Linked DNA regions of Homo sapiens: region 2 is linked to region 1. The links come from fine-mapping of genetic effects on gene expression. Tissue or cell type: whole blood. Region 1 holds a variant in brackets; the other region holds the start of a gene. All regions are shown on one strand. Distances are between the middles of the regions.

Evidence for each region. PIP is the estimated chance that this variant, and not a neighbour inherited with it, causes the effect.
Region 2: PNOC starts here. The variant in region 1 is fine-mapped to the expression of PNOC in whole blood (TOPMed, PIP above 0.99).

What each region holds. Positions count from the first base shown.
Region 1 is chr8:28,333,146-28,343,843 of GRCh38, forward strand. It overlaps PNOC (prepronociceptin), which reads left to right. Exons shown (of 4, transcript NM_006228.5): 3 at 5,895-6,346; 4 at 9,797-10,206. The coding sequence ends at 6,299. Among named protein-coding and RNA genes, the nearest start is that of PNOC, 21 kb to the left of the region's middle. RefSeq lists silencers at 3,748-3,857, 6,366-6,415 and enhancers at 4,936-4,985, 5,006-5,165, 5,256-5,405, 6,086-6,155, 8,103-8,182 and 1 more. The variant G/A (reference allele first, on the strand shown) is at 5,643.
Region 2 is chr8:28,313,171-28,323,868 of GRCh38, forward strand. It overlaps PNOC (prepronociceptin), which reads left to right and starts at 4,098. Exons shown (of 4, transcript NM_006228.5): 1 at 4,098-4,146. RefSeq lists enhancers at 5,091-5,603, 5,604-6,115.

The DNA.
Region 1 (10,698 bases):
ATGTCTCTTGGTCAGAAGTGGTGTGACTCTTTAGTGGCAGAAACTTGACCACCTTTGTGAGCTGCTCCTTTCATCCCCAATGGGTTCATATGCCTGTTTCCCACTTTGTACCCTAATCTTTGAGCCCAGACACCCAAAAGGCCATTTGTTCACTTTCCCCATAAGCCCAGCTTTACAGATGAATTTGGCAGCCATCTGAGACTCCAGATGCCCATACGCATTCTGGCTTAATATAGCAATGCCATCAGCGTGGGCTGCCAAAACGTGTCCAGCTCACTTAATAAGCCATTAACCCATCTCTGGAAAAAGGCTGGTGAGTTCCCCGCACCAGAGGGTCAGGCATTAAGCTCCTATGCCCATCTGGTGCTACAAATGCGTTGTGAATTTAGCTTCCTCCTATTTGCCCAAAACCCTCTCCTAAGTCAAGAGTTGAGATGATTTTGTTAGCATCTAATTTATCTAACAGTGCATCAAGTCTGGGTATGGACTGTGGCATCTGGTTTGATCACACAATTTCATTTTCTCTGACTGACACAAAATCTAATTACTATCTGGGCTTGGAAACCCAGGGGCTCACAGAAGATCTAAGCACCTCCAAGTTTAACAACTCTTCCACTTGTTTCCATAAACTGACGGAGCAGAAAAATTCAACAAGCAGTTTGGGGCTCCTGTTCTGCAAGGATTGGGCCAAGCATGCTCAAAAGTCAGATCCAGCTCCCCCACTCTACCCTTCTATGACTTTCCCAGTGCTAGCCACACTTCTCTGCATCCCTGTTGACTTTGTAGAGCAGAGTTTCTCAAACTTGCCACTATGGGCACTTTTGACTGGGGAATTATTTGTTGTGGGGGTTGTCCTGGGCACTTTAGGATGTTTACTGGCATCCCTGGCCTCTAGGTGCCAGTAACACACACACACACACACACACACACACACACACACACACCAGTTCTGACAACCAACAATGTCTCCAGAGATTGCCAAATGGCCCCTTAGTGGGCAAAATCACTCCCAGTTGAGATCCACGCCTGTAGAGTACTAACTCGACAGGATTCTGATCTGAAAGAATATACTACACATTGATTCTAGCTGGTTTTCTTCCAAGTATTTCAGGAGCAGGCTAAGTACAGACCCAGGTGACTCTTTCTCTGTAGGAGTCTTTAACCACCGTGTTCTGTGATGGCTTCTTCCTCCTCAGAGCAAGTTCCAAAACAGGATTTCTCCAGGTATCATCCAGTCTCAGAATCACCTGAGCTATTGCTAAAAATACAAATTTCTGGGCCCCACCCTTGACTTAGTGGATCAGAATCTCCAATGCTTTAGGCTAAAAATTTGCATTCTAACAAACTCCAGTAGCATTTTTTTTTCTTTGAGACAGTCCCGTTCTGTCACCAAGGCTGGAGTGCAGTACAGCAATCTCAGCTCACTGCAGCCTTGACTTCCCAGGCCCAAGCAATCCTCTCACCTCAGCCTCCCAAGTAGCTAGAACTGTAGGCATGCACCACCACACCCCACTAACATTTTTATTTTTGTAGAGCTGAGGTCTCCCTATGTTGCCCAGGCTGCTCTCAAACTCCTGGGCTCAAAGGCGCCTCCCTCCTTGGCCTCCTAAAGTACTGGGATTATAGGCGGGAGCCACCATGCCCAGCACAGTAGCAATTTTTATAGAATACTCCAGAAGTTTGCAACTTCATTGTTCTTAAGGCAGCCCTCCCTATCTATGGAAGTTACCTATCATTTTTTATAATCAGTAACATTGCAGGTGTGAAAAAGTAGTTCCCTTCCTCTCCCTGCTGAGGTCATTCTGTCAGCAACTAGGTTCCATGTGTTAAGCATCTCTGAGCAAAAGCTAAATGAAAAAGCCATGCTCAGAAAAACCACGGCGTGAGCATCACTAGGGGCCAGTGTCACCTCCTGTGACTAATAGGTGGACTTGGACAGGTTGCTTCTTGGAAACCCTGCCAGGGAAGGAAAGGGACACTCCTGTCAGACCTAGTCCCTGCCTGTCCCTTCCAGTCCAGTGGAACATAGGCAATACTCCCATCCAAACCTCAGCTCTTGGTCTCATAGAATCCTTCTTCTTGCATTAATTGCCACCAATTCATATTGCAAGCACACAGAGGTAGCTGAGTAGATGTCTTGGACTGGGCCACAAGGCATCTTTGAGTTCTTGTTCAGGTTATACTGTTATCTAACCGTGTTGTTTTGGACACATTACTCAACCACATCATAAAATGCAAAGGTTGAATTATATTCATGATTTGCAAACCCAGGCAAATATCGGAATTACCTGAACTTTGTAAAATTAAGTTTTTAATTCCTTTGTAAAAATAAGTTTTAATCCCTGCTTCTATTCTTCAGAGATTTAGTTGAGTCTTGAAATTCTGTTTTGTTTTTTTCTGAGTAGGAGTTTCACTCTTGTTGCCCAGGCTGGAGTGCAGTGGTACAGTCTCGGTTCACCACAACCTCCGCCTCCCAGGTTGAAGCGATTCTCCTGCCTCAGCCTCCTGAGTAGCTGGGATTACAGGCATGCACCACCACGCCCAGCTTATTTTTTGTATTTTAAGTAGAGACAGGGTTTCTCCATGTTGGTCTGGCTGGTCTCAAACTCCCAACCTCAGATGATCCGCCCGCCTCAGCCTCCCAAAGTGCTGGGATTATAGGCATGAGCCACTGCGCCTAGCCGAAATTCTGTTTTTAAAAGCTCTGCAGGTGATTGGGACTCACATCCAGGTGTGGGACCCTTTAGACCAGGTGTGGGCTCTGTCTCCAAAGGAAAAAAAAAAAAGAATAAAAGAATCCTGGAATCCTGGACTAATGGGACAGATGAGTAATCAGATAAGCAAAGGGTGGCAGCAGGGTGACAGGAGCTGCCTGCAACAGTGCGCATGCTAAGCACTAGGGGCGTCCCAGTCCTGGTTGCAACTAGCTGCGACCCCTGTTCTTCCAGGGACTCTTTCTCACCTCTTTTCATTCCCTTCTTTTATACTCTTAGCTAAATATAGAGTGACTTCTTGATTAATTCATCTCAGTTCAACTAACCTCTACTGGAACCCTACTCTTTACTGGAAGGAGAAGATTCCTGCAAGGGATTCACACATGAGTAAGATGTGGTCCCTAACTTGTCATATTCCGCCTTAGAAGGTATTGCAATTTAATGACATAAAGCATTAAAATTTCCACAAGAGGAATACAAAGTTCTGTGGGAAGACAGAGGCAGGAGAGAGTGATTCTTGCCAGGGAACTAGAAGTTATCAGAGAGGGGCAGCACTGGAGCTTGTCTGGGTCCCAAAGGATGGATGGAAGGATGCAAGGAGGTCATTGCATCCAAGGGACAGAGAGAAAGGCATGCAGGTGCGAGGAGCTTTGCGGTGTTTAAGGCACTAGGAACAGCCTCATAGGCCTCAAGGGGTGTGTGATGAAGAATCGGAAATAAGACCTAGATGGTGGGCTGGACCAGGTGGTAGAGGGATTTGAATGCTTTGCTCAAGAGTTTGGAGCTGTTTTATGGATATGATAAACAATTAGACAGCTGTGAGCAAGGTAATGACATGATTAGTTACTCTTCAGGAAGAGTATCCTGCCAGGGGTACCACACTGATGACAGTGGCAAAGACCAGAGATGCGGAGATCAGTTAGGGACCCACTTCACCTAAGAGGCACTTAGGCGGTGGTAGAGGGAGTGGGAGGAGGGGCAGAACTGTAGACTGGCAGGATGGGGGCAGTGAGAGAGGAGGAAAAGATATGCCCAGGGTTTGAAATCTGAGTCAACTGGGGAGTGAGGTGCCACTCAGAGACAGGGACCGAGAGGCCAAGCAGAAGGACAAATATATCAGATAAGAATGAAATTCACCTGCTAGTAACAAACATCTAAAGTGACAGCGGCTGAAATCAATAGATTCAGTTCCTCACAAGGAGTGAGAAGGGAACAGCCCAGGGCTGCAGTGGCAGCTCCAGTCTCCTCTCTCTTCTCTGCCAGTCGGCAGCTTCTAGCCCATGACTCCCATCCTTTGAGTCGCTGCATGGTTTCTAGATGGCAAACACAATGTCAGCCCAAATGTCCACATTCCAAACAGAAAGTTGGAGGAAGAGGAAAACGGAATGTTCTTCCCACTTAAGTCAGTCTCCTACTTTCTTGGAAACCCCATCTGATGCCCGATCACCTTTTTTTTCTTTTTAGGCAAAGTCTCACTCTGTCACCCAGGCTGGAGTGCAGTGACATGATAGCTCACCGCAACCTCCGCCTCCCAGGTTCAAGCAACTCTTTTGCTTCAGCCTCCCCAGTAGCTGGGATTACAGGCAGCCATCACCACACCCGTCTAATTTTTGTATTTTTAGCAGAGATGGGTTTTTGCCATGTTGGCCAGGCTGGTCTCAAACTCCTGGCCTCAAGTGATCCGCCTGCTTTGGCCTCCCAAAGTTCTGGGATTACGTTTCCTTTTTTTTTTTTTTTTTTTGAGACGGAGTCTCGTTCTGTCGCCCAGCGTCAAGTGCAGTGGCACGATCTCGGTTCACTGCAAGCTCCGCCTCCCGGGTTCACGCCATTCTCCTGCTTCAGCCTCCTGAGTAGCTGGGACTACAGGCGCCCGCCACCACGCCCAGCTAATTTTTTTTTTTTTTTGTATTTTTAGTAGAGATGGGGTTTCACCATGTTAGCCAGGATGGTCTCGATCTCCTGACCTCGTGATCCACCCGCCTCGGCCTCCCAAAGTGCTGGGATTACAGGCGTGCGCCACCGCACCCGGCCTACACTTCCATTTTTATGTCGTCAGCTACTTATGGCTCCAAGGAAGCTTGGGAAACATATACGTTGCCTTTAGGAATAAAACAGTGTTCTGTGCATAAGGAGAAGGGGAGATGAATACGGGCCAGTTGCAGCCTCTGCCCCAGAAGGTGACCTGGAAGCCAGGCAGGAGCTCCACGCTATGATGAGGAGCTCTGCCTACTGACTCACAGCAGTAAGGTCAGGTTGAAGTGGGGTTTCCAGCCGGCTAAGGCCAGAAACCTGGACTGAAATTAGGGGTGAAGCCAAAACAGCAAATAGGAAGAAAAGCTGGGGGCAGAGGCTTCCAGGAGACCCAATCAGAACCAAGAACGTGGGAGGTGGGGGGCCAAGGTCAGAACCAGCCAAGAGGGGCTGGAGAAACATCGTGGTCCAGCTGGTGGCTAGAAGTCAGGGTTGGCAGGAGAGGCAGAGCAGAGTGTTCCTAGGAGCCGAGCGGGTCTGCTGGGCTCTGGTCTGATGATGGCATCTCTCCCCACACCTGGAACTGGATCACAGGTTCAGCCCCGCACGTCCAGCCGGCCTACCACCCCACAGGGTCTTGACCCCATTTGCTATAAATGATACACAGATAGTGACGACTGCTGTACGCGGGATGAAAAATTAACAACACCTAGGTAGATCTTTACATGGTGACCTTAAAATAAACCTGCAGATTTGACTACATACTTTCACATCCCCAATTTCTTTAACCCATGTGACCTCCCACAAGCCTGAAGAGAGAACAAAATAAAATTCTTTATGGGTGACAGTCATGAGCTGTGCTTGGCTCCAAAAACCCGACTAAAGATGTAACAAGGTGCGGTGTTGGGCGCATTTATCCTGTGTTAACTTCCTATGTTAACGTGCTGTGACACCAGA[G/A]GTAAGTTACGCTCACCTCTCTGAGCCCTGGTTTCTTTGTAAAATGATGGAGCTGGGTCAGATGATTCTCTGTTTGTTTCCAATTCTGAAATTCTACGAACCTAAAACCTGTGTAAAACTGCTCCACGTTACTTGATAACTTAGATGCTTCAGAAGCACTTGCACTGGTGCAGTGGGCCAGATCTCCTCCCTCGCCCTGGATTAACAGAGGTCCTTGTTCCTTCTCCCCTCCTCTCACCCGTATCTTTGCAGGTGTGCATCCTCGAGTGTGAAGAGAAGGTCTTCCCCAGCCCCCTCTGGACTCCATGCACCAAGGTCATGGCCAGGAGCTCTTGGCAGCTCAGCCCTGCCGCCCCAGAGCATGTGGCGGCTGCTCTCTACCAGCCGAGAGCTTCGGAGATGCAGCATCTGCGGCGAATGCCCCGAGTCCGGAGCTTGTTCCAGGAGCAGGAAGAGCCCGAGCCTGGCATGGAGGAGGCTGGTGAGATGGAGCAGAAGCAGCTGCAGAAGAGATTTGGGGGCTTCACCGGGGCCCGGAAGTCGGCCAGGAAGTTGGCCAATCAGAAGCGGTTCAGTGAGTTTATGAGGCAATACTTGGTCCTGAGCATGCAGTCCAGCCAGCGCCGGCGCACCCTGCACCAGAATGGTAATGTGTAGCCGGAAGGGGCGCTCCTCCCAGCTGTACCGGCCACTGCAACCCATGAGTGAGTTGGGCACCAATAAGCTGGGGGCAAGGAGAGACCTCACACACCAACTGTCTTAGCCTTGCTCCCAGGCCTAGAAGCACATTCATCTCCCCGCCCCCTCCCCACTCCACACACACACACCCCGCAAGGAGTCCAGCCCACCCTTTCTCTAGGCAGCAGATTTTCCTATGATTGCACCTTGAAGCTGACCACTTCCGGCTAGAGACTGGTTACCATGGGGATAATAGTAGTATGTTAAGATAACTAATTCCTCTATCACTCCCCAGGAGCTTAGTTACTATGGGGACAGTTAAGTGGACCAATACGCCCATCCAGTTGCCACAGCAACCAGTCAGCTCACCTTTCCTCGAGATTGTCTCTCTAAACACCAAGAGTGGGACCTACTCTTAGCCATTAGCAGAGTCCAATTACCACAGCTATGATGGTGCTATTTCATCTTCAAAGACGGCTTACCTATCCCCTCTCCTTTCCCCAGCTCTCAGGGTGCCTGGCTCCATGGAAACATTAAAGTTTCCCATTTTACCTGGACAAAGAGTTCCTGTTAAGATTAGGAGTTGTGGTTTCTGCTCTTCCTCCTTCCACAAGCCATTTGTCCATCCTGCCACCTTGCCAGAGAGGGACTGATTCCTTGTGGTCAACGGTATCATTACTGAGCAAGACGTGGAGAATTTGGTCCAATGGACCTAGTAGCTACTAGAATATGGACTAAAGGGGTTCATCTTCTTTCCTCCATTTGGCTTCTTTCCAGCGTGCCATTTTTGTTTTGGTTTTGTTTGCTTGCTTTTATTCCTCTCTTTCTTCCTTGTTCTCTCTTTCTTCTGCTCTGTTCCTATACCCACAGGCACCTTATACAAGTCCACATGTCTCATAATATACATCAAATACCCTAACTGATTGCCTGTTCATTCAAAACCCAACTTTCCTTAGGATATCAACCAATACATCACTTTGAGTGGCATTGGCAACCTAGCACAGTAGAATTTTCTGAAAATTTAGGAAACTCCCAACCATCAAGGCTATGTGCCTTAATTTGTATATGGGAATATGATCATCTGCAGAGTCCCATACGTCTCCTTAAATAGCTAAGAAACTTGCCATATTCATCCATTTTGCATTGCTACGAAGGAATACCTGAGGCTGGGTACTTCATAAACAAAGTTTATTTGGCTCACGTTCTGCAGTCTATACAAGAAGCATGGCACCCGCATCTGCTTCTGGTGAGGCCCTCGGGGAGCTTTTACTCATGGCAGAAGGCAAGGGGAGCTGGCGTGCCACATGGCAAGAGGGGGCAAGAGGGGGAAAAGGGGAGGTCCCAGCCTCTTTAACAACCAGATCTCCCACGAACTCATTACCATAGGGTGGGCACAAAGGCATTCCTGAAGGATCCACCCCCATGACCCAAACACCACCCACTAGGCCCACCTCCAACATTAGGGATCACATCTCAACATGAAATTGGAAGAGGACAAACTTCTAAACTGTATCATTGTCCTAACACAAAGAACCAGTCAGATCATCAAAATCACCCCAAAACATTACCCAAGTGGGGCTTTTCCCTGAGTCCGAGCATAAGAGAAAAATGTCTGCATGTGCTATTTTAAGTTGCGTCCCATGTGTCAGAGGTAGCCGTGTCACTAATAACCTTCCTTGATGATCTATTAGTACATATGCTAATGTTTGGTGCCCACACTTTAGCATGGAGACGGCCCCTTTGCAGGTAGGCCAACATGTTCACCACGGGCCTGTTACCAAATATGGACACGTGTATTAAGTTGTGAAGAGAAAGCTGATGTGTTTATTTTAGCAGGATGACTCATCTCCAAAGGCCCCAAATTAACCTGCACTGCTTTTGAAGTCATACTCACTCTTGGATCCTTCACAAGCCTCCTATTTCTTTCTAACACATATCTGCACAGCACCTAACAGTAAATCGTTCAGAAGTAGCATGGGTTGAATTCTTTCAAATCTTAAAGACATTCTTCTTTAAAGTGGCTCTTCAGGGACACTGAAGCTCATGTCTAATTCTGAACGATGGCAATGTTCTTTACCTAAACACAGTTGAAAATCAGGCCCATTAACAGGAATCCATTTATTTTTTAAAAAATGATTTGAGCCTCTATCCAGGCAATTGGTTTTTCTAATCTTCTATTATGCTTCCAACTGAGAGGCACTGAAACAAAGCCAGTAAGGAGCTTCTGTCTGTGGCTCTGCTCAAATGTCAAGTTCTGGATGGAAACTGGAAACATTAACCAGCTCATTTGGGTATTATTGATGACTCTCCTTTCTCCTTCTGCAACCATCTCTCTGCTTCTTTTCCCCCAACATGCACAGTTGGTGAGTTCCAATATGGATATTTATAAGTCTATAACAGCCGGCTTCAACCTTGTTTTCATCCACATACACACACCCCAACCTGCCCTACACATGATGGAGATGTCTCCATCTTGGGGGACTCTTGTTACCAATGCTGTCCTTGACTTCTAAGATACCTAATACTAATAGACATGGAGAAGGCTGGGAAGAAGTGGGGCCACCTTACACTGGAATGGGATAAAGAACCCTATTCAGGGCCGGGCGCGGTAGCTCATGCCTATAATCCCAGTGCTTTGGGATGCCGAGGCTGGTGGATCACCTGAGGTCAGAAGTTTGAGACCAGCCTGGCCAACATGGTGAAAACCCGTCTCTACTAAAAATACAAAAATTAGCCACTTAGCCGGGCGTTGTGGTGGGTGCCTGTAGTCCCAGCTACTTGGGAGGCTGAGGCAGGAGAATCGCTTGAACCCAGGAGGCGGAGGTTGCAGTGAGCCGAGATTGTGCACATTGCACTCCAGCCTGGGCAACAAGAAAGAAACCCCATCTCAAAAAAAAAAAAAAAAAAAAAAGAACACTATTCAGAAAGTGTAATGATGTCCTAGGAAGGAAAGGTGTTGGGGTGCAGGCCCACCTCTAGACAGAACTTGTCACAGCTGGTCTTAGGGTTCTGCCTTCCTTTCCCCTGACCCTATACTACCTTCCTCTTTTCTGCTACCCTTAGACTTTGACCCTTCTAGGCAATGGAAACTGAGCACATTCATTCGTGGTCAGGTTATCAGTGCCATCAGGCTCAAAGAGCACTTGCAAAGAAAAGAACTGTAAAACAAGGGCACTATTTCGCATGGGCTCCGAATACCAGCAAGAACTGTTCCCCGGGAAGGGGCTTGCCACTGTGCCTATCGAGTCACAGCCTACAGACCTCCCGTTTAGTCTATTAGTCCAGCCAGTAGACCCGGGGCTGGGGGAGCAGATGTGCGGAGATGCTGAGGACCCCTCTGGCTACGTTAGGAACGATTTACTTGGGTTGATAGCTTTTCTTTGCCTCCCTTTCACTGCTTCCGTCTCTAGGGGGAATAGAAAAGGGTCAGAAAAACCATCAGGTTTGCCATTTTTTAACCATTTCTGTCTCCCCAGGCGTCCAGGTGATCCCCCAAACAGCATGTGCTCAGCCCCAGACCTGCCGCCTGGGAATCAGGATTCCTTCTTCCCCAAGGCACTGAGCGCCTGCAGATCCCGCAGGCTTCGTTTGCCTCCAGAACCTTCCCGTCTGATTGTTCCTCCCCAGCCCCCTGGCATGTTTCACCACAACCCTGTTGCTACATCAGAGTGTATTTTTGTAATTCCTCTAGCTACCATTTCAATAGCCCCATCTCTCCTGCTCACCCGCCTCTTGCCCCTTCTAGGGGCAGGTGAAAGGAATAGGAAATTGAACCTGGGGTTTTGACTTGCCACTGCCATAACTTGTTTGTAAAAGAGCTGTTCTTTTTGACTGATTGTTTTAAACAACGATTTCTCCATTAAACTTCTACTGAGCAAATGGTTAATAAATTGGTTTGCTGTTTTTAAGTGAAGTGACAGAAGCAGACTCTGCACACACACAACCAGCGCTGCCGCTCCCGGGAGGCAGAGGTAAAAAGCGCATGGCACTGCTGTGTAGAAAGGAGGATAGGCAGGCTGGGCTCAGTGGCTCACGCCTATAATCCCAGCACTTTGGGAGGCTGAGGCGGGTGGATCATGAGGTCAGGGGTTCAAGACCAGCCTGGCCAACATGGTGAAACCCTGTCTCTTCTAAAGATATAAAAAATTAGCCAGGCGTGGTGGCACGTGCCTGTAATCCCAGCTACACAGGAGGCTGAGACAGGAGAATCACTTGAACTCGGGAGGCAGAGGTTGCAGTGAGCCAAGATTGTGCCATTGCACTCCAGCCTGGGAGACAGAGCAAGACTCAGTCTCAAAAAAAAAAGAGAGAATGGGCAAGGTGCACCCCGACGGCACAGTGCCCAGATCCGAGTGCAACAGGTGGGGGAATGAATGCA
Region 2 (10,698 bases), 20 kb before region 1:
CTTACCTATCAGTACAGATTGGATTCTAATGTTTGCAGCCTCCCTGGTTGGGCCTCTATTGCAAAGAAGATGCCAAGCTGGTGTGGGCAGGAGTGAACTTCCGCCACCTCATAAGCAGAAGAAATCATTATTTTATTTTATTTTATTTTATTTTTATGAGACAAGGTCTTACTCTGTTACCCAGGCTGGAGTGCAGTGGCTCAATCATGCCTCACTGCAGCCTCAACTTCCCAGGCTCAAGTAATCCTCCCTCCTCAGCCTCCCAAGTAGCTGAGACTACAGGTGCTTACCACCACACCTGGCTAGTTTTTTATATTTTATAGAGACAGGGTCTTGCCGTGTTGCCCAGACTGGTCTTGAACTCCTGGGCTCAAGCAAACCTCCCACCTTGGCCTCCTAAAGTGCTGGGATTACAGGCATGAACCACCACGCCCAGCCAAGAATTTTATTAATTCCAAGTTCTTGTGCACACACACACACACGCATACACACACACGCGCGTGCACACACACACAAAGCAGTAGAAATAAGAACATGTGACCTTTCTTTTCCAACTATTTTAATAAATGTATCCTGCCAATCAGAAAAGCAGGGGGCAGCTTGCTGCTCTGTGACCAGTTACCATACCCAAGGGAAGCCCATGGCTCTCAAAGTGCCAAGTCTCAGTGGCTGTGTGGCAAGGGGGAAGCCCTGAAGCCATCACAAACGCCACACAGTCTGCACCATTTCTAGTCTACTTGTGCTTTTCTGAGGGGCAAGATTCTTCTACTCCCCCACCCAACAGTGGTTTTAAACTCCCTCCTGGGTTCATCCTGCCCTTCCCCATCCATCACTGGAGACAGCCTGCCACCACATGCAGCTTCATTCAACCCACCAAGAATATCCAGGTGTTGGGTTCAACTCTTCTGTCTGGTAAATGAGGAAAGAAAAGTCCAGAGAAGCTAAGTGACTTTTCACTCTTGCTCTTTCTCTTCCTCAACTGCAAGGGAAGAAAAGCATTTAGCTGCCTGAACATCCTGGGAATGACGAGGTGCTCAAAGGCAGGTGTGTTGGTTTAAGGTAATTTTCCACTGGATGTAATAGAAAATCCAACTAAATGGCTTAAATCATAGGAAGTAAAAGTTTCAAATGCCTCCAATGAATGGCTTCTGCATAGCCACCCTCTATTATCCTGGGACTTTGTAGTCTCCACCCAGCCTGGCTCTGGACAGTCTTGCAACTGGCCTTAGCCAACAAATGTAGCAAAAGCAATGGACTGCCAGCTCCATGCTTAGGTCTCAAGAGGTTCTGTGTGCTTGCGGTTGTTCCCTTGCTTGATTGTATTTGCTTGTGCTTTCACTTCAGGCTTGCCATGAGACTATGCCAGGTTAATATGCTGGAGGGATGTGAGAGACCCATGAAGGATAAGACATGTGCAAGAGAACCAAGGTCCCCAGCTGACACCCAGCCAACTTTCTGAGTCCAACTGCAGGTGCAGAAGAGAGTCAGGCTGAGACCAGAAGAACTGCCCTGCTGAGACTAGCCAAAATTCCCAATCTGTAGAATCATGAGTCAAATACGTGGTCTGTTGTTTCAAGCCTCTGGCCTTGGTGTGGCTTGTTATGCAGCAATGGGTAACTGAACCCTGACTGACATTTGAAATAAATGTTTGGGGTTTTTTTTGTTTTTTTTTTGTTTTTAAAAAAAGGTTGAAGTTTGGAGTCCAAGACTGATATGGCCATTCCATTAGTCATGGGGGACCCAAAATCCTTCCATCTTTATGTTCCATCATATTTACTCATGGCTTCCATCCTCAAAGTTGTCTTATCTCATAATCCAAGATAGCTGCTAGAGCTCCAGCCATCACATTTGTGTCCCAGGCAGGATGGAGGGAGGACAAAGAAGAGAGAGAGGCCTTCAGTGAGTTGACCCCCTTTAAAAGAGCTTTCCCAGCCAGGCTCAGTAGCTCACACCTGTAATCCCAGCACTTTGGGAGGCCGAAGTGGGCAGATCACAAGGTCAGGAGATCAAGACCATCCTGGCTAACATGGTGAAACCCCGTCTCTACTAAAAAAAAATACAAAAAAAAAATTAGCCAGGCATGGTGGCAGGTGCCTGTAGTCCCAGCTACTCAGGAGGCTGAGGCAGGAGAATGGCATGAACCTGGGAGGCAGAGCTTGCAGTGAGCTGAGTTGGCGCCACTGCACTCCAGCCTGGGCGACAGAGCAAGACTCCGTCTAAAAAAAAAAAAAAAAAAGCTTTCCTGGAAACCCCACCCAAGGACCTGCAGCTTAATGCTCATTGGCAACCCTTGGTCAATGGGAAATGTAGTCTTTTAGCTAAGTGCATTGATGCCTGGAATAAAATCAAGGGTACCGTTTAGTAAGGAAGAACAGGGAAATGGGGATTGGGTAGGCAGCCTGCAATATCTGCCACATCATGTATGAAATCAGGTTCCAGGCCTGAGACACTGAAGTACATCAGGATGCAAAAGTGACCCCGTGTCAGTCAGTGAACATGCTGGTTTCCCAAAGAGTCCAAAATGGTAGCTGCGACCTGCAGTGTAAGGTTTGGGCAACAGAGATCTAAGTGAAGAATCATGAGTATGCTGGTCTCCTGAGCCCTTTTGCTGTGAACACAGACGGAAGGGAAATTTTATTCTCAGAACCTGTTGCTCTTAACCTGAGCAGATGTTTGCTGTCTTTTTCCTATTTTCTTTTTATGGAGATGTAATTCCCATAACATAAAATGCACCATTTTAAAGCATACAATTTGGTGGGTTTTAGTATTCTTGCTATGTTGTGCAACCATCACCTCAGTCTAAATCCAGAACATTTCCATTACCCCAAAAAGAAACCCTATACCATTTGCAGTCAGGGCAGATGCTTCCCTCAATCCTTCTCCACCCAGTCCTGGGTAGACCAGAGAGCTGGACTTAACCACATGAATGAGTGCTTGAGCTCCTTGGATGACATAGGTTCAAACCCTGGGATTCTGGAATATTTTAGACCCTCTTAGGAAAACCAAGGACAGGGTCATGGTGAAATTCACCTAAGGTAAGGAAACGTGGGGTCCACAAGGATGCTAAACCCTCAAGCCTGTGCCTTCAGCCTGTGAGCTCCTTTCCTGCAGCCCACAACCCCCGGCGGCTGTAGAAGACAAAGAGGCTCTGCAGTAAGGGACAGGGAAGCTTCCAGAGCTTCTGAGCCTCCAGGGCCCTCGGTAGTGATGCCCTAAGTTGCAGAAGCTTTAAAAGCTCTCTGTTGTGACACCAGACACTGATATGGGATTTCTACATCCAGGTGGTACTAATCAGTGTGAAAAGCGGGCTGAGAGGAGAGGGAGGATGCAGCACATTCATTAAGGGCCTCGTGTGTTGTAGATTCAAACAGAATCTCCTTTTTCTACTCACAACCATCCTGGGCAGTATTAGACTCATTTTCCGGAAGGAGGACTTGAGGTTCACAAAGAGATGTGCCTTGCTCTGACTGTACAGCCGAATTTCAGACACTTCCATCTGAGCCTCGAGTCTCAGCATTCTCCATTGCACCATGCTGTGGGCACCTGTGGAAATGCCTCCTGACCTGGCCCAGGGCAGGTGCAGCCACCTCTTGAGTGGCCTAGTTAGGGGCAATGACATTAGGTCAGGGCTTGGCTTAGCTCAGCCCTGGGCTCCTCCGAGTCGGTAGGAGCTTGGCATGAGCTCCCCTCCCTTCTGCCTGCCTCCTATTCTTCACTCCTCAGGCAAAAAGGTTGCTCAAGGAGACTCCAGGATTTGGGGTCTGCCTCGTCACTGTCACCAGGAGGCTTTTTTTCTGACTTGCCAGAGCTCCCCATCAGTCCTCACAGAGCCTCTGGAAGCACAGGGAAGGCAGCTGTGGGATCCTGGCTGAACAGAGTCCAGGTGAAGCAGGCTTGAGAATGGATTGATGGGGAGGTGGGGATGTCACAGGTCTGATGGCAGAGCCGGGGGAAGGGAACAGCCAGGAAGGCTTGCAGGTTCTGCTGTTTGGTTGCTGAAGGGGGTCAGTGTGTGTATGTGTCATGGAGGTGGGCAGGGAAGGGGAGGGCTGTGCGTGGGGGAGAGGATATATATGCTGGTGTGGCTGAGAAAGCGGAACCGAGCCTCGCATCCATCGGAGGGAGCCGGGGACTGACAGCTCTCAGGTAGGCAACTGCACGGGGCCCCCAGCCCGACCGCGACTAACTGGACTAACTGCGTGGAGCTCCGGGAGGGCAGGGCCACCAGGGGCTGGCTCCTCGGCCTCTCTCCTTTGTCCAGTGTGGATGCTGCTGGCCTCTTGCGAGATGGTTTCTTCATTCATCTCCTTTGTAGCGCTTGGATGGTGGGGAACGGGGGAGGGCTGAGTCTCTTTTTTAACCTCAGACAGACGCAGAAGCAGAAAGAGGGGAACTTGGAAATGAGGAAAAGTTTTGCTTCCCCAGCTGTGGCCCCTACGTGGTTGTTGCTCTGTGTCGAGAGGAGGCTGCTGGAGGAGTGAGGCCAGAGGAGGGGCAGGCACTTGGGAGGGGGTTTGCCTTCCACGGGGCGGCCCCCAGGAAGACCCTGGCCCCCTCATGAGGGTTTCCTCTCAGTGGCTTCCTTTCCTCTCAGATGCGGTGCGCAGGCTGCTTCTCCGCCTATCACTGAACTTGATGCCATCCAGATGGGAGTTTTTAATCCGGAGGGAGCCCTTCTCCCTTCTGCCCCCAGCAGAAATTGCTACAAATAATGGGGAAGCGCCAGATCTGGGGAGTGTGCTTCACCTGTATACACACACTGCTGAGCGCCACGGCGTGTGAATTCCAGAGAGCATTTCTACGGGCGTGACCTTGGTCTCCCAGAACCCGATTCATTTAGAGGGCTCTTCTCTTGCTTGGCATCCCTCTCCCCCTGCCCATCTCCCCCACCTAAAGGTCTTTGCCCAGGTCATGCAGAATACTCCGTTCATAGTCACCGCATCCCAACTCTCGAGGCTCTCTCAGCCACCTTCTTTCTTCCTCCTCTCTTTGTGCATCTCTCTCCCTCGAGTCTTGCTTCCCCGGCTTCACTACCCAGCCCCTCCTCCCCGAATCTCGCTCTGAACATGGGCAAGTTCTGGGGGAATTTCAAGTAAGGCAGGATGATTCGGGAAATGGACTATTTAAAGCAAGCTGCTTTGGACTTGAATACCCCCATCCTGCGCTTAAACATCTGTGTTTAGCTTCCTCAAGCAGCCCATAATTGCCCCAATTATAACCAATAACATTGTTCGGCAGACTAACAAAAGATGAGCTTTGCACGGCATTCGCCAGCAAGCCCAAACCAGAGTTTTCAACATAGATGGGAAAAGTAACTGCCTGGCTTCTTATCAAAACCTCCCAAAGCAAATACTGCTCTTTTTCGCTGCTTGTGGGTGGCTACTGCATGCAGCCTCTTTTTTTCTCATTTGTAAAGTGTGGCAGGGAAATATTCTACAAGCTTACACTGAGGCTATGTTACCTTTAACAAAAAGGATTCGTGCTCCTTTGGGCTTGCTGAGTCTTCTGCAGAGGAGGGTCCCTGGAAAACCCATCCCCAACCATCACCACCTCTGTAAAAGCATGTGCCGCCTGGTGCTGCCTGGCGAGGGCGCTGTGGTACAGCCTCGGGTCATTTTGAGGGCGCAGTTTTGTTGCGCACAGGGCAGCAGCCCCTGCTTTATCAGCTGAAGGCTGAGAGTACTTACGGATTTGTAAAATGCAGGCGAGTTTGCATTGTCAGTGAAGGGAGTGATTGCAGGATTAGGCTCAAACCTGTGCTCCCTGGAGCCTATGACAAGAGCTGTCACTAAGCTATCCTGTATTCAATCAATCAGGTAGTTACCGTCTACACTCCACCAGGCAGGGAGGCTTGCAGGGGCTCTAGTAGATTCAGCAGAGGTGATAATAACAGCACTTTACATTTGTACAACGATTTAGGCGCTTTCACACCTATTATCCCAGCAACAGCCCTGTGAGGTGGTGCCATTATCTCGGTGTTGCAGTTGGAGAAACTGAAACTGAGAGATTAAATGATTTATTCAGTACATGGCAGGGTCAGGACTGAGCCAAGGCATTGTGGCTCCAGTTCATCTCCCCGTTACGGTCAGGGGTGCTTATGAACTCATAGTGGGGTCGGGGGTAGAGGAGAGACGTAACACAAACATGAGAAACAATTAGAGGACCATGCAAGGCAGGGTGTAATTCAGTCCTAAATCACATAATCCAGAGAGCAAGTGCTAGAAGAATTCGGGAGAAGGAGCATTTCCTCCAGGCATTCCTGGGATCCTACCAAGTGAGAAGGCAGGTGGAATTTGGATGGGTGAAGGGCTTTGAAGAGGGAGGCAGCAGCCAGGTCAAACACATAAAATGAGGGCAAAGGAATTAACATTTCTTGAAACCCACTCTGTGCCAGGCAGTGAGCTAAGCTTGTCTACGTGCTTATTTCATGCTAATACACACATGCACATATGCACACTGGTAGGAATGGGAAGTTTCAGGTGAGCGTTCTCTACTTGCACTGACACGGTTCAGTGATCCCTCATTTCTCCATCCAGCTCCACAGCTCCCAAAGCCCACGAAGGAAGCTTTGAAATATCTTGCATTCCGAGTCTGGGTGGAGCTACTCCTCAGATATCTTAGGAAAGGGACGGGCCCTTCTCAGAAAACGGGAGCCGTCCTGACAATGAGTGGCTGGCAGTGGCTTGAATTGCTGGGCAGTCATGAAGCAAACTGGATTTTCTAAACGCCTTTATTTAAATCCCACAGTCGAACATAAAGTTTTCCATCTAATCACAAACTAGTCATGAGATTTGGAGCACATCGATTTCAGGGGCAAGCCAGTTTTCTGGGCATCTCCCTGGATAGGCTACAATTAGTTTCAGTCTCAATTTTCCACGATCCTGTGGGGTTTTTTTTGTTTGTTTCTTTCTTTCTTTCTTTCTTTTTTTTTTTTTTTTTTTTTTTTTTTTTCAAAATACTGGCAGCTGCTTCAACATTGCAGAAGCACAAAATCATCAGCCCGGGGGCCCAGCCTGGCAGGTGGAGTAGATAGCATGCCTCACCATGCACCCCAGCTCTGCCATCCCACAGTGGCTCAGATCCAACCTCCCCTCTTTCCACACTGGCCTGCAATCTTCCCCCCACCCTCCTTCCCCATTCATCCTTTCATTCATTCGGCCAAGGAACGTGTGTGGGGTTCCTGATAGGAGCCACACAGAGCAAGTGCCAGGAGCACAGGGTGGCCAGAGCGCTGGCTTCCTCCAAACTCACAATGGGCTTCAGGAGACTGAGACTTTTGTTTTTATCTTACCTTTCTTAATTTGCATTTTAGTGGATTTTATAATGTATGTAACTTATAAATAAATTAGGAATGTGTACTCAAAATCGACTGCTAGGGGTACAAAGTTAAAGAAGTTTGGCCGGGCGCAGTGGCTCATGCCTGTAATCCCAGCACTTTGGGAGGCCGAGGTGGGCAGATCACAAGGTCAGGAGATCAAGACCATCCCGGCTAACACGGTGAAACCCCGTCTCTACTAAAAATACAAAAAAATTCTCTGGGCGTGGCGGTGGGCGCCTGTAGTCCCAGCTACTCGGGAGGCTGAGGCAGGAGAATGGCGTGAACTCGGGAGGTGGAGGTTGCGGTGAGCCGAGATCACACCACTGCACTCCTGCCTGGGTGACAGAGCGAGACTCCATCTCAAAAAAAAAAAAAAAAAAGAAGAAGAAGTTTGAAGATTGTTGTCCTAGATTCATTGCTGTTTCTCTGTGTTTTCCAATATTTTAGAAAAGAACACCGAATGATTTTATTACATAAAAGTAAATAAAAGCTTTTCTTTCTTTCTTTTTGAGTTGGAGGTCTTGCTATATTGCCCAGGCAGGTCTTTTGTTGTTGTTGTTGTTGTTTACAGACAGGGTCTCACTCTGTCACCCACACTGGAGTGCAGTGGCACAATCATAGCTCACTGCAGACTCAACCTCCTGGGCCCAAGCTATCCTCCTGCCTCAACCTTCTGAATAGCTAAGACTGCAGATGTGCACCACCACACCTAGCTAAATTTTTTTTTTTTTTTTTTTTTGTAGAGATAGGTGTCTTACTATGTTCCCCAAGCTGGTCTCAAACTCCTGGGCTCAAGCGTCCTAAGTTGCTGGGATTGCAGTTGCATGCCAATACACCCAGCTAAAAGTAAATAAAAGCTTTCCAAAATCTATTTAAATTATGTTGCCAGTATATGTGGGAGTGTGGCCCAGAACCAGGAAGATGGGAGTTGAGAGCTACCTTCCCACCTGCAGTAGCCCTGAACGTGTGTCTTTTGCCCCCTCCACACTCTTTCTATGGCTTTCCTCATGCTGCCCGGAAGCTACTTCCCCATAAAGCCTTCATCTCCTTTTCCTCTTCCCTTCTTCCTTCCATCCTTACTTCCAGGAAAGGACAAATATCTGGCCATTCATAAAATCAGAGAATATCAACCATCTCATCTAACTGCCTCTTCTTATAGAGGGAAAAGCTGAGGCCCAGAGAGAAAAGGTCTTGCTTAAAATCCCACAGGTAACGACAGAGCCAGACTAGAAGCCAGGACTCTTGTTTCTGAGCACAGCTCTCACGCGTTCATTTCTCTCCAGCCTGGGGAATGCTTGACCTGTGCTGGGCTGGGCAATTGTTCTTTCCTCCACCTCCTCTATGCCGTCCCCCTCTTTCCAGGTGGAAATTTAGATGAGAGGAGAGACACTTGAAGTGTAATTGTATCAGCCAGAAGAGGAAAAGAAACTAAAGCAGCCTCTCTCCATAATAGCTGGTAAACAAGCATAAGCTCCATTGTAGGAGTCTTATCTGCAATGGGTCTAAGAAATGGGGCATCGGGAAGACCCACCTATCTTCTGATGGACATGCAGCTGGTGCATAATGAAGGATCCCTGTGTGGACTGGAGAGAAGCCACCATAAAGAGGTTGTCATCAGCCCCGGCACAGTGGCTCATGCCTGTAATCCCAGCACCTTAGGGAGGCTGAGGCGGGAGGATCATTCGAGGTCAGGAGTTTGAGACCAGACTGACCAACGTGGTGAAACCCCGTCTCTACTAAAAATACAAAAAAAATTAGCCAGGCATGGTGGCGGGCACCTGTAATCCCAGCTACTCAGGAGGCTGAGGCGGGAGAATCATTTGAACCCAGGAGGCAGAGTTTGCAGTAAGCCAAGATAGCGCCACTGAACTCCAGCCTGGGCAACAGAGCGAGACTCCATCTCCAAAAAATAAAAAATAAGAAGTAAATAAAAAAGGTTGTCATCAGACAGGGAGTACAGACTTCAGGACAAGAGGAAGCCCTACATGAAGACAGCTGCTGGGATCACTGACAGGCAGGGTCAGACATAAGTCCCAGCTCTGCCACTTCAAGTTACATCAGCTCCTCAAGCCTCAATCTGCTCAACTATAAAATGGGGATGATAGCACTTACCCCATAGGGTGATGCTTATAAAGCAATTAGCGCAAAGCCTGGCTCATAGTGCTCTAAAGTCATAGCAATATGATTGCTATGAAATGCAAATAGATTCCACCGCAATGAGATGCCATCAGAATCTGGCAATCTTCCAAAAGCAGAAACAGTGTGTAAAGTTGATGGTTTCCCAGAACACATGGTTTGAAGTCAACACACCTGAGTTTAAGTCCTGGCTCTGCTACTTATAAACCGGATGATCCTAGTCAACTTGCTTAACCTCTAAGAGTTTATGTTCATTTTAAAAGGTGGGTTGATATTAACCCTAGATTACAGGGTTGTATAATATATGAATATAAAATTTTTTGGTAACCTGTCAAGAATATTCTCTACATGTGGTTGATGAAAAGGATGGAGGTGTATCTGCCTCTAGCAAGAGCAGTCCCCTCTTCTCTGCTGGCAGCATCAAAATTACAGGACTTCGAATAGGTCATAAGACAAAACTCAATTAGGGTCCAGCTTCGGCTAAAGCTGCATATGTGATTCTCCAAACAGATAAGCAACTAATTATATTGCCCTTGGAAGCAAGATTACATGCAAATCGATTAAGGCCAAGCCATAGTGGTATTTTATCTTTATAAACAGCAAGGCACAATTAAATTTATGAGGTGTCATTACCAAAAGAAAAGGCAATTCAACATTTCTTTATTCAATATGAGACGCTCAGAATATAGTATTGCCACATAGAAGTATTAGCTGAGCTTGGCTCACGAAGTGAAATACAAGCCATGGAAAATTCAGCCTACTCAGGTAACTTTTGATTTACTGATGTTTGCTATGGTTGTATAAAAATAGCAACAACCTGTCACTATTCCCATTTCACAGTTGAGAAGACTGAGGCTCACAGAAGTGAAATAATTTGCACACAGTCCCACCGTTACAAAGTATAAAGTTTCAGCATCAATGTAACAACAAACCTGTTATTATCCCCACTTTGTAGTTGAAAGGACTGACCATCTCAGGACTTGTCTGCAGTCACACAGGTCCACAGTGTAAGGTTTAAACACAAATACAACTCGTGAATTAACTAAGTACTCATCTCCATTTAAATACAGAACATCATCCAGCATGGAGATATAGTCAAGACTTCTTACAAATGAAAAACATCTACTGAGTTTTCAAAGTTCAAAATCTGATTTAACCTAGAACACAGTTGTAGTAGGTGTTGGGAAGTGTATGAGAAAATACAGAATGCTGTCTCTATAACGATATTTACATAATTTTGAGTT